Linked DNA regions of Homo sapiens. The protein of the gene in region 3 binds, or shares a complex with, the protein of the main gene of each other region. Each region holds a gene or a part of one and is shown on either strand. Other genes may lie near its edges.

Region 1 (3,208 bases), on a different chromosome or scaffold from region 3:
CAGAGCTCTTGTCTTTTTTGCTGTCTCCCCATAATTCACCCCAGCCACAATCGGCTGGGCAGGGGCTCAGGAGCTACCCCAGCACCCCCGTGAGGGGGCTGAGCCCGAGCCTCTCCCCTGATGACCCTGGGTAGGTCAGGGTGCAGCAGGTCCCTGACCTGGGCCCACCAGCTTATGGCCAGTCCAGGACACCTGAGATCTAAGCAGGGTCCTAGCTAGGCCCGCTCCGCCATCTTAGAGTGCAACCCCTGAATACCACCCTGAAGGCGGGAGGCTCATGTGAGCCCCATGAGCCCAGCCACTCCAGCGCCAAAGCCATGCCTAATCCTGGCAGAACAGATGCCACATGCTTAGGGACAGGGCTGCAGTGGGGCATCTTGTGTGTGCCTTTACTTGCCTCTCCCCCACCCATCATTTTAAAGAACCTTCCAGACTTGGCTCAATGTACTGTCTCTTAAGGTATCTTCTCTCTTCTGGCTGTTGGATGGGTTTGTGGATGGTTGGTTACTGAACACTGACTTTATTGTGCACAGGGAAAGGGAACTCACTTTACTTGGTGCCTGGAATGTCACTCTAGGTTTTTAACATGCTTCTGTTGGACTTAAGTACTGATAAAGCTGCTGTTCATAGCAGTCCAGAGGTAAAACCAAGGCCTCAGCTGGAGAAAGCATGCAGAGGCTTAGTCTTGGGGAGCAAACCCACTCCCACAAGGGGTCCTGGGTGCTGGTTAATGCACCTGCATTTTTCCTTTATTGACAGAACCAGCTTTCAGGATATCTGCTAAGAAAGTTCAAAAACAGTCATGGCTGGCAGAAGCTCTGGGTCGTCTTTACCAACTTCTGTTTGTTCTTCTACAAAACTCATCAGGTACTGGAGTTTCACTGGAGCCCAATGCAGGTGATGCTAGCAGACAGACACTTAACCCTGCTCACCTGTGTCCCTTTTGTATTTTGGTTCTGCCCTCCCATGCTTTGCCCACACACCCTGTGCTGTGTGAACAGGGAAACTGGCTCCCTTGGCCCGTGGGCATTTGTACGTGCCACCGTTGTGCAGGTAGCAGAGGAATGGGCATTCCCTGTGGCAACCCAGCCCCTGGAACCCGTGTCCCTATGCTGTCTTGCAGGATGACTACCCACTGGCCAGCCTCCCGCTGCTGGGCTACAGCGTGAGCATCCCCAGGGAGGCCGATGGCATACACAAAGACTATGTTTTCAAGCTCCAGTTCAAATCCCACGTCTACTTCTTCCGGGCTGAGAGCAAGTACACATTTGAAAGGTAATTTTGCAGGAGGCAGCCCTGGTCAGCTGCCCATTTCGATGTCCGCTCAGCTCCCATTTCTACTCATGGTGGTGGAGGCAAGTTTTCTGGGCCCTGGAAAGGAAGGGCTGAGCAATGCTTCCAGCATTTCCAAAAAACAGCAATGCTTTGTTTTTTTTTTTTTTGGAGATGGCGTCTCCCTCTGTCACTCAGGCTGGAGTGCAGTGATACAATCTTGGCTCACTATAACCTGCACCTCCAGGGTTCAAGCGATTCTTCTGCCTCAGCCTCCTGAGTAACTGAGATTACAGGCATGCACGCCACGCCGCCTGGCTAATTTTTGTATTTTTAGTAGAGACAGGGTTTCACCATGTTGGCCAGGCTGGTCTCGAACTCCTGACCTCAAGTGATCCATCTGCCTCAGCCTCCCAAAGTGCTGGGATTATAGGCATGAGCCACCGCACCCGGCCCCAGGTTTTTAACCCTTCTTTTGTCCTGCTTGTCCCATATCCTGGGTTGTTCTTGGGACAGTGTCTGAGCACAAGATGGCTCACTGGTCTGATGGCCGCCCTCTCCTCCAGGTGGATGGAGGTGATCCAGGGGGCCAGCAGCTCAGCCGGGAGGGCCCCAAGCATCGTGCAGGATGGCCCCCAACCCTCCTCAGGGCTGGAGGGGATGGTCAGGGGGAAGGAGGAATGACGCTCAACCTGCCCAGGTTTGGACACAACTACAAAGAACAGCAGGACACAGAGGTGACCTCTGTCCTGAGGCTTCTCAACAGATGGGAAGTGGCTGTGGTCTCACTGGATCCCCACTGGCACCAGCAGTGTGGGTGGGCCTCATGTAACATCTGGGAGGGGCTTCATCCCCCCACCCAGGACCTAGTGCATGCCAGCAGCTATCTGGGGCCCTGGGAAAAATGTGCGAGTCTTGAGCGCGGAGCCGCTCAAGCCACAGCTCCCAGGCCCCTGGCTCAAAGACGCAGACAAGGCCTGAGCAGTGCTCTCGGCATCGGACCAAAGCCTGGGCACACCCTGCCTCTCTCCCCAGAGCAGGGTCCCTGCCGAGGACTGGCCTAGAGCAAGCACTGGAAAAGAGGCCCTGCCATACACCCTGCGTACCCACTGCCAGGACCCTCTCAGACAAGCGTGGCACAGCCATGCTGACCTTCCATCTGGTGAACCAAGTGGCAGCCCCAGGGGCCTGCCCTGCAGGTCACAGCTAAACAAGTCTGGCAGAAGCCACGCTTGTTCCCCATGTACCTCTAGAGAAGCAGAAACCAAAGTCCCCCTGTGCCCTGGGAGGGTGGGGCCGTCTAATTTATTACTGCCCAGCATTCCTTCCAACGGGAAGTAGATGGGCGACTGCTTTGTTCACACACATTTGATTAAAAATAAACAAACAGCATCTCCCCACCTGCATTCTCCTCTGCCTGCTCTGTTCTTCCGGTGGGCCAAGCAGAGCCCAGGAATCCGTCACAGGGAAGTTTCGAAGGGGGGCTGGGCTGCCGTCTCTGCGTGCTGTGATGAGGACTCGGGACCAGGGACGCTGCAGCCCCGCATGGCCCGGGCCCCACCACACACACCTGCATGTCTCCAAGTCAGGTCTTTATTGAAAGTGGCAGGGGCCTCTCAATGTTCTATGAAAACTAACATATTAACCTCAGAATATTTCAGGAAACAAGTAATTCAATTTTCTTAAAAAACAAAACATTCTGGATGACACAAGTACTTATGAGCAGACACAGTACCTGATCCAACACCACAAGGCAAATCTATGGCCATCATGGGCCCCGGGAGGACAGCGGCCAGGACACTCCTCTGGGGGCTGCCCTGTTGCCTCTCCCCACCTCATGGGAGGAGGAGGCAGAGCTGCCCTGATAGTTGCTCTGCGCCTTGGTCTGAGCGGCCATAGGGCTGCATGAGTCTGCAGAAGACCCAGGCGTAGCTCA
Region 2 (3,500 bases), on a different chromosome or scaffold from region 3:
ATGCAACATTTTCTAAGTACGTCTAAGGAGATGCAGGCTGAGACCACCACACCAGTGTTTGATGACTACATCAGCATCGGGTGGTGGTGGGGCTTGTCCTGCATGCCACGATGCTCTGCATTTTATTACACGATGATGTTTCTTGCAGCCATCATGCACCAGCACCAGTGGAGATGTGTGCAGGCATGTCTTCCCATACAAAGCATGTGTCCTGTATGGGCTTATGCCCCAGCACACAGAGCTCCACCCCACAGCTACCGAGGAGCTGGCTGAGAGGCGAGAATATGAGCACCTCCGGGGTAGTTGGGGTTTCACCCTTGGATGGACAGGGAGGGAGAATACTTGAGGTGATCCACGTTTCTCATGAGTTTGAATCTGAAAACATGCTTGGCTCTTGTAATCAAGCTTTTGTAATTTGGAGTGAGTGGGAACTTGGTTCGACTCGGTGTTTGGGTGTTCCTGCTGTCTGTTCCCATTTGGGCCATGCTGGTTTCCTTGGGAAGCACATTCCCTGTCACTATCGCCATCCTCAAGGCAGGCAGCTGACCAGGTGCTGCTTGCGGTGGCCATGCTGAGCCCAGGGCATGGGTGAAGTCCTCAGCCCAATCACAAGGGAAGGGAGGGAGGGACCTGGGAAATAGCCCTTCTAAACCGGGAAAGTTGGTGGTGAAGCGCATCCAGTTGCTCTTTCAGCAGACAGGAAAAAGGGGATCTCCTGGCTCCTTTCCAGTTTCTCTGAGATAATTCCAAATTGACATTTCTATTATATGGTTGGATGTGGCCAAACGTTAATACAGAAAGTTAACAAAGCAGCCCAGCATGGTGGCTCACATCTGTAATCCCAGCACTTTGGGAGGCCGAGGCAGGTGCATCACCTGAGGTCAGGAGTTCAAGACCAGCCTGGCTAACATGGTGAAATCCCGTTTCTACTAAAAATACAAAAAATTAGCCTGGTGTGGTGGTGCAGGCCTGTAATCCCAGCTACCCAGGAGGCTGAGGCAGGAGAATCGTTTGAACTGGGGAGGCGAGGTTGTAGTGAGCCGAAATCGTGCCACTGCACTCCAGCCTGGGCAACAAGAGCAAAACTGTCTCAAAAAAAAAAAAAAAAAAAAGTTAAACAACACAGAACATATATTTTGTCAGCATTTGTCATAAAGTATTTTATAAACTAGGAGATAAGCTTTTTTTTGAGACAGAGTCTTGCTCTGTCGCCCAGGCTGGAGTGCAGTGGCGCGATCTCGGCTCCCTGCAAGCTCCGCCTCCTGGGTTCACGCCATTCTCCTGCCTCAGCCTCCTGAGTAGCTGGGACTACAGGCGCCCACCACCACGCCCGGCTAAATTTTTTTGTATTTTTAGTAAAGACGGGGTTTCACCATGTTAGCCAGGGTGGTCTCGATCTCCTGACCTCGTGATCTGCCCGCCTCGGCCTCCGAAAGTGCTGGGATTACAGGCGTGAGCCACTGCGCCCGACCAGATCATTTAAGCTCTCTTAAATGATCCCTGTGAAGCTCTGTGCAGAGTTTTCTGTGAAAATGTATTTATTAGGGACATCCTTGGAAAGACAGTGCCCTGCCCACCATAGCACCCAGAGCCCAGGCGTAGGTCCTGAGCGACTCGTCTTTGGGTGAGTTGCAGTGAGAAGCGCTGTGGAGTAGAGAGTCCAGCCATCAGGTGTCAGTGTGGCGGTTGACATTTTGAGGCAGAAGTCTGTCCTTTGGGGTAGGACCAAGAACTTCATCTCATACTTTAATTGTTGGGTGTGTTTTTCCAGAGACCCACTGCTAAGGAGTTATTGAAGCACAAGTTTATACTACGCAATGCAAAGAAAACTTCCTACTTGACCGAGCTCATCGACAGGTACAAGAGATGGAAGGCCGAGCAGAGCCATGACGACTCGAGCTCCGAGGATTCCGACGCGTAAGTCGGCCCCTGAGTGACCCAAGCATGTGTGTGGGAGGGATCCGCTGGTCTTTGTCACTGTTTGGTGTGGGTTTCGTTTTCTGTTGAGTTTTTTTTTTTTTTTAGACAATCCAGGTTGGTGGCAATTGTTGTGTTAGACACAGCCTGGGCCTGTTTGGGAGTTGTTTAGCCTCTTGACGTTGCTGGTGGAGTTTCTGCGAGTGAACTCTTGTGGTAGAGCTGTGCATGGGGAACTGGACCTGGCTGTTTCATTCTGTTTTGTTTCGTTCTGTTCTGTTCTGTTTTCCATTAAACTTCCTGTTTGTAAAACCCTGATCAGGTGAAACTGCTTTACATGGATGTCTGAAAGGCCAGAAATGCATGTGTTTGTGATTCTGTATTGTGTCTGGTAGAAGCTTCTGTACCAGGAGTGGCTTACTGAGAATTGCTGTCAAGTTTGGCATCTAGGAATTCCCTTGGCTTAAGAGGCGGAGTGGGGCTGGAGCCATTTGTGTGGGGAGGGCTGGGGGAGGTGGTCGGGCAGACTTGTGTCTGGAAGTCCGAGCGTGGGACTCGTCTGTTCTCGTGCATGCCTTGGCAGAAGTTAAAGTTGGCCCACAGTGCAGGTCCATGTGCCAGGCCAGTTGAATGAGGATTTCCGGGGATGAGACCCTAAGTGGTTTTTCAGGGTCTCTAGGTGATTCCAGTTTAAAGCCAAGGTTGAGACCACTGCCCCCGGAAGTTCTTGAGGTACTGCCATTGGGAGATTGCTGGGGTAGCAACAGGGATGACAAGAGAAAGAGACTGGAGAGAGGTTTGGAGAGCCAGGACGCGGCGGTGGATTTGGGTGAAGGAGGGAAGCCAATGTTCCAGGCTGGGGCAGCGTGGCACCAGGTGTTGTGATGTGTGGTGCGGGAAGCCGAGTGTGGGGTGAACCGTGTGTGAGTCTGAGTTGTCCAGGAGAGACGTCCAGTGTGAAGTGGCACCGAGGTGTGGAGTTCAGGTGAGAAAGCTGGGCAGGTGAAGCGGGCTTAGGGGCCACTGCTCTGTGGAGGTCACTTGAGCCGAGAGAAAAAAGGGTGTCAGTTGGGGCATGTGGGGGAGTGAGGCTGGCCCCTAGGTGTGAGGGTGAGGCTCCGCCTGTGAGTGAGAGGGGAGAGGTATGGCCGAGGGGCGGGAGGAGGTGCAGGCTTAATGGGGCCACAGGCATCAGGGGATGATCAGCAGGGCCTGGGGCTCATTGCCTCTGAGGCCCATACAGGACAGGGAGTGATCAGCACACCATCATCTCATGATGGGGGAGGGAGCGCTCGGAGGGACACGGGTGGGCTTTGGAGCGAGTGGAGGGTACCAAATAGAGGCAGTGAGTGTGAATCCCAGAACCAGGGCTGAGAGATGGCCAAGGTGAGGCCAAAGTGTTGGAATGACAGGCATGAGCCACCACACCCAACACAGGGACATCTGCTTCCCTGGTGAGAGGAGGAGCCCAGCAGAGAGAAGCTGATGTCCCAGAGATGGGCTCCCAGGGAGGTGGGGGAGGTGTTCTCCGGGAGGAGGAGGAGGGTGGGCATGCACACACTGGCACGCCAGGGAGTTGTGGA
Region 3 (3,500 bases):
TCAACCCATAGAAAAGACAAGGAGAAGCCTTAAATACACTGCTACTAAGTGAAAAGGCTACATATTATACGATTCAAACTAAGGCAACCCTCTGTATCCAAGGGTTCCCCATTCACAGATTCAAACAATGGCAAGGCAAAAATATTCCAGAAAAATAATAAAAATATATATATATATATTTTGAGACAGAGTCTCGCTCTGTCGCCCAGGCTAGAGTGCAGTGGCGCGATCTCGACTCACTACAACCTCCGCCTCCCGGGTTAAAGCGATTCTCCTGCCCTCAGCTTCCCAAGTAGCTGGGATTACAGGCACGTGCCAGCACACCTGGCTAACTTTTATATTTTTAGTAGAAACGGCGTTTCACCATATTGGCCAGGCTGGTCTCAAACTCCTGACCTTGTGATCCACCCGCTTTGGCCTCCCAAAGTGCTGGGATTACAGTCATGAGCCACTGCGCCCAGCCAAAAAATAATTTTTAAAAATTATAGCAACTAGCCAGGTGCAGTAGCTGACACCTGTAATCCTAGCACTTTGGGAGGCCAAGGATGGCAGATAGCTTGAGCCCAGAAGCTCAAAACCAGCCTCAGCAACTTAGCAAAACTCTGTCTCTAGAAAAAATACAAAAATTAGCCAGGTGTGGTGGCGGGTGCCTGTAGTCCTAGCTACTCAGGAGGCTGAGGTGGGAGGATCACCTGAACCCAGAGATCAAGGCTGCAGTGAGCAGTGATTGTTTTACTGCACTCCAGCCTGGGTGACAGACTGAGACCCTGTCTCAAATAAAAAGTTTTAAAAAGTGTAACAACTATTTACATAGCATTTAGATTATATAAGTAATCTAGGCCGGGCGCAGTGGCTCACGCCTGTAATCCCAGCACTTTGGGAGGCCAAGGCAGGCAAATCACAAGGTCAGGAGATCGAGACCATCCTGGCTAACAAGGTGAAACCCCGTCTCTACTAAAAATACAAAAAATTAGCCGGGCGTGGTGGCGGGTGCCTGTAGTCCCACCTACTAGGGAGGCTGAGGCAGGAGAATGGCGTGAACCCAGGAGGCAGAGCTTGCAGTGAGCCGAGATCGCGCCACTGCACTCCACCCTGGGCGACGCAGCGAGACTCCGTCTCAAAAAAAAAAAAAAAGTAATCTAGAGATTTAAAATATACAGGAAGATGTGCATAAGTTACAAACTCATTGTATTGAGGGACTTGAGCATCTGAGGATTTTGTATCCTGGAGGAGAACCCCTGGAACAAATTTCCCCCAAGGATACCATGGGAAGGTATATGAATGTATTCTGGAAAAGGCAAAACTTTGGGGTAGGAGACTACTTGTACTTTCTGCTAAATTTTGCTGTGAACCTAAATTGTCTTATGAGGGGCAGTGAGTGTATACACACAAAAGCGAGCATACACAGTTATTTAGGCTGCGCACGGTGGCTCACACCTGAAATCCCAGCACTTTGGGAGGCCAAGGCGGGTGATCACTTGAGGTCAGGAGTTCAAGACCAGCCTGGCCAACATGGTGAAACCCCGTATCTACTAAAAATACAAAATAATTAGCTGGGCATGGTGGTGCATGCCTGTAATCCCAGCTACTCAAGGGGCTGAGGCAGGAGAATTGCTTGAACCTGGGAGGCGGAGGTTACAGTGAGCCGGGATTGCGCCCACTGCACTCCAGCCTGGGCAACAAAATGAAACCCTGCCTCAATTTAAAAAAAAAAAAAAAGGAAATTAATTTAAATAAATTTAAAACCATTTTGTTAAAAAAAAAAAACCTTAATAAAAATATATTTCAGGTCATGGGTAAAGAGTCTCTGTAGTCATGGCAACAGCCGAGGCAGGCTGCCTGCATACCAGCTACCAGTGATGGGGAGAAGCTGCCAGTCTACATCAGCCTGGGCCATAGTAAGCTGCTGCCACGGGGCCAGCAGGGTGGGCACCATGTTGCATTCATCTCTGTACCCCCAGCATCTAGCAGTGTTGGCATGTAGTGGGCACTCAAAGAAATGTGTGTTGAATGAACAATACCTGTGACAAGCAAGCGAACTTTATTCTTTCTCGACCCTTGTTCCTATGACACACCTCCTCCTGACTGTCACCGTCACTCCTTCAGAGCAGAGCTTCTCTAGGGAACTTGGATGCGAAACAACTATGGTAAAGGACATCCTGGCTGAAGAGGGACTGCACTTTGATGAGTTGAACAAGCTGTGGGTGTTGGACTCAGAGGTTACCCAGCAGACCACAGAGCTCAAAGAAGAGTGCAAGAACTTTGCGGACAAAACTGGCCAGTTTCAGAAAACAGTTGGTGGTTTAATTGAGCTTGTTGATAAACTTGCAAAAAAAGCGTAAAATGCGAAGATGAGGGCCATGGTGCTCCGAACTTGCTCAAATCAATAGCAAAGCAGAGAGAAGCTCAACAACTTCAGAACTCAGTAACTTCAAGCACTAATAGAATAAAAGAAAATTTAGGCAGGGCATAGTGGCTCACACCTGTAATCCCAGCATTTTGGGAGGCCAGGGTGGGCAGATCACCTGAGGTCGGGAGTTTGAGACCAGACTGGCCAATATGGTGAAACCCCATCCCTACTAAAATTCAAAAAATTAGTCGGGCATGGTGGCACACCTATAATCCCAGCTACTCTGGAGGCTGAGGCATGCCAGGCATAGTGGCTCATGCCTTTAATCCCAGCACTCCTGAGATGCCAAGGTAGGAGGACTACTTGAGGCCATGATCTCAAGACCAGCCTAGACAACATAGAAAGACCCTGTCTCTACTAAAAAAAAAATTAGCCAGGCGTGGTAGCACGTGCCTATAGTCCAAGCTATTTGGGAGGCTGAAGTGGGAGGACTATTTGAACCCAAGAGTTTTGAGGCTGCAGTGAGCTACGATCGCACCACTGCATTCCAGCCTGTGCAACATAGTGAGACCCTGTCTCTTAAAAATAAATAAAATAATAGAAAATAATAATTTGGAATGGACAATGAATGGATAGAAGTACAGGTAAAACAAGACTGATCATGAGTCGTTGCTGTTTAAGATGAGTGACACGTTTGTGGGAGGTCACAATACTATATTATTTTCTTACATGTTTGAAACTTTTCATAAAAAAATTAAAGGAGGGTTATATATAATACAATTGTCTTTATGATAAAAAGGATAAACTGTTAAGAGGGGCAATGGATGAAACAAACCTGTCAGGAGATTATCTCAAAGAATTCTGGCAGGAGGAGTACTCTGAACTAAGGCAGTATTAGTACAGAAACAAAAAGCACAGATTGAATCAGTTACTTCCTTAGATCAGCAGTCAGGCTTCATGGGCATTCTAAGCAAAATTTTCTTACCTTTTTTGAAAAAAAACTAGAAGAGGCTCCACAGCATTCATAATATATGCAAAGGGGACTATACAATCCCCCAAAAAATCAAGCATCAGTGAATTAGAATATACTTTAGGATACTGATGTTACCTATATTACTTAGCCTTTTGAATCATTATAGTCCAGTTCACT

What was found.
Region 1: STRN3 (region 3) and STK25 share a complex: the UniProt entries of both Homo sapiens proteins name them as parts of the core of STRIPAK complex.
Region 2: STRN3 (region 3) and STK24 share a complex: the UniProt entries of both Homo sapiens proteins name them as parts of the core of STRIPAK complex.

The regions. Positions count from the first base shown.
Region 1 is NC_000002.12:241,492,170-241,495,377, forward strand, and holds the end of STK25 (serine/threonine-protein kinase 25), read right to left. Parts: 3' UTR 1,957-3,208; coding exon of another isoform or gene 1,839-1,956; 3' UTR 1,280-1,838; coding exon of another isoform or gene 1,124-1,279; 3' UTR 868-1,123; coding exon of another isoform or gene 760-867; 3' UTR 501-759; downstream 1-500. Other genes in the region: FARP2 (FERM, ARHGEF and pleckstrin domain-containing protein 2), read left to right, coding at 760-867, 1,124-1,275, 1,839-1,956. UniProt on the Homo sapiens protein: Oxidant stress-activated serine/threonine kinase that may play a role in the response to environmental stress.
Region 2 is NC_000013.11:98,462,108-98,465,607, reverse strand, and holds part of STK24 (serine/threonine-protein kinase 24 isoform b precursor), read left to right. Parts: intron 1-1,771; coding exon 1,772-1,917; intron 1,918-3,500. UniProt on the Homo sapiens protein: Serine/threonine-protein kinase that acts on both serine and threonine residues and promotes apoptosis in response to stress stimuli and caspase activation.
Region 3 is NC_000014.9:31,016,380-31,019,879, forward strand, and holds part of STRN3 (striatin-3), read right to left. Parts: intron 1-3,500. UniProt on the Homo sapiens protein: Calmodulin-binding scaffolding protein which is the center of the striatin-interacting phosphatase and kinase (STRIPAK) complexes.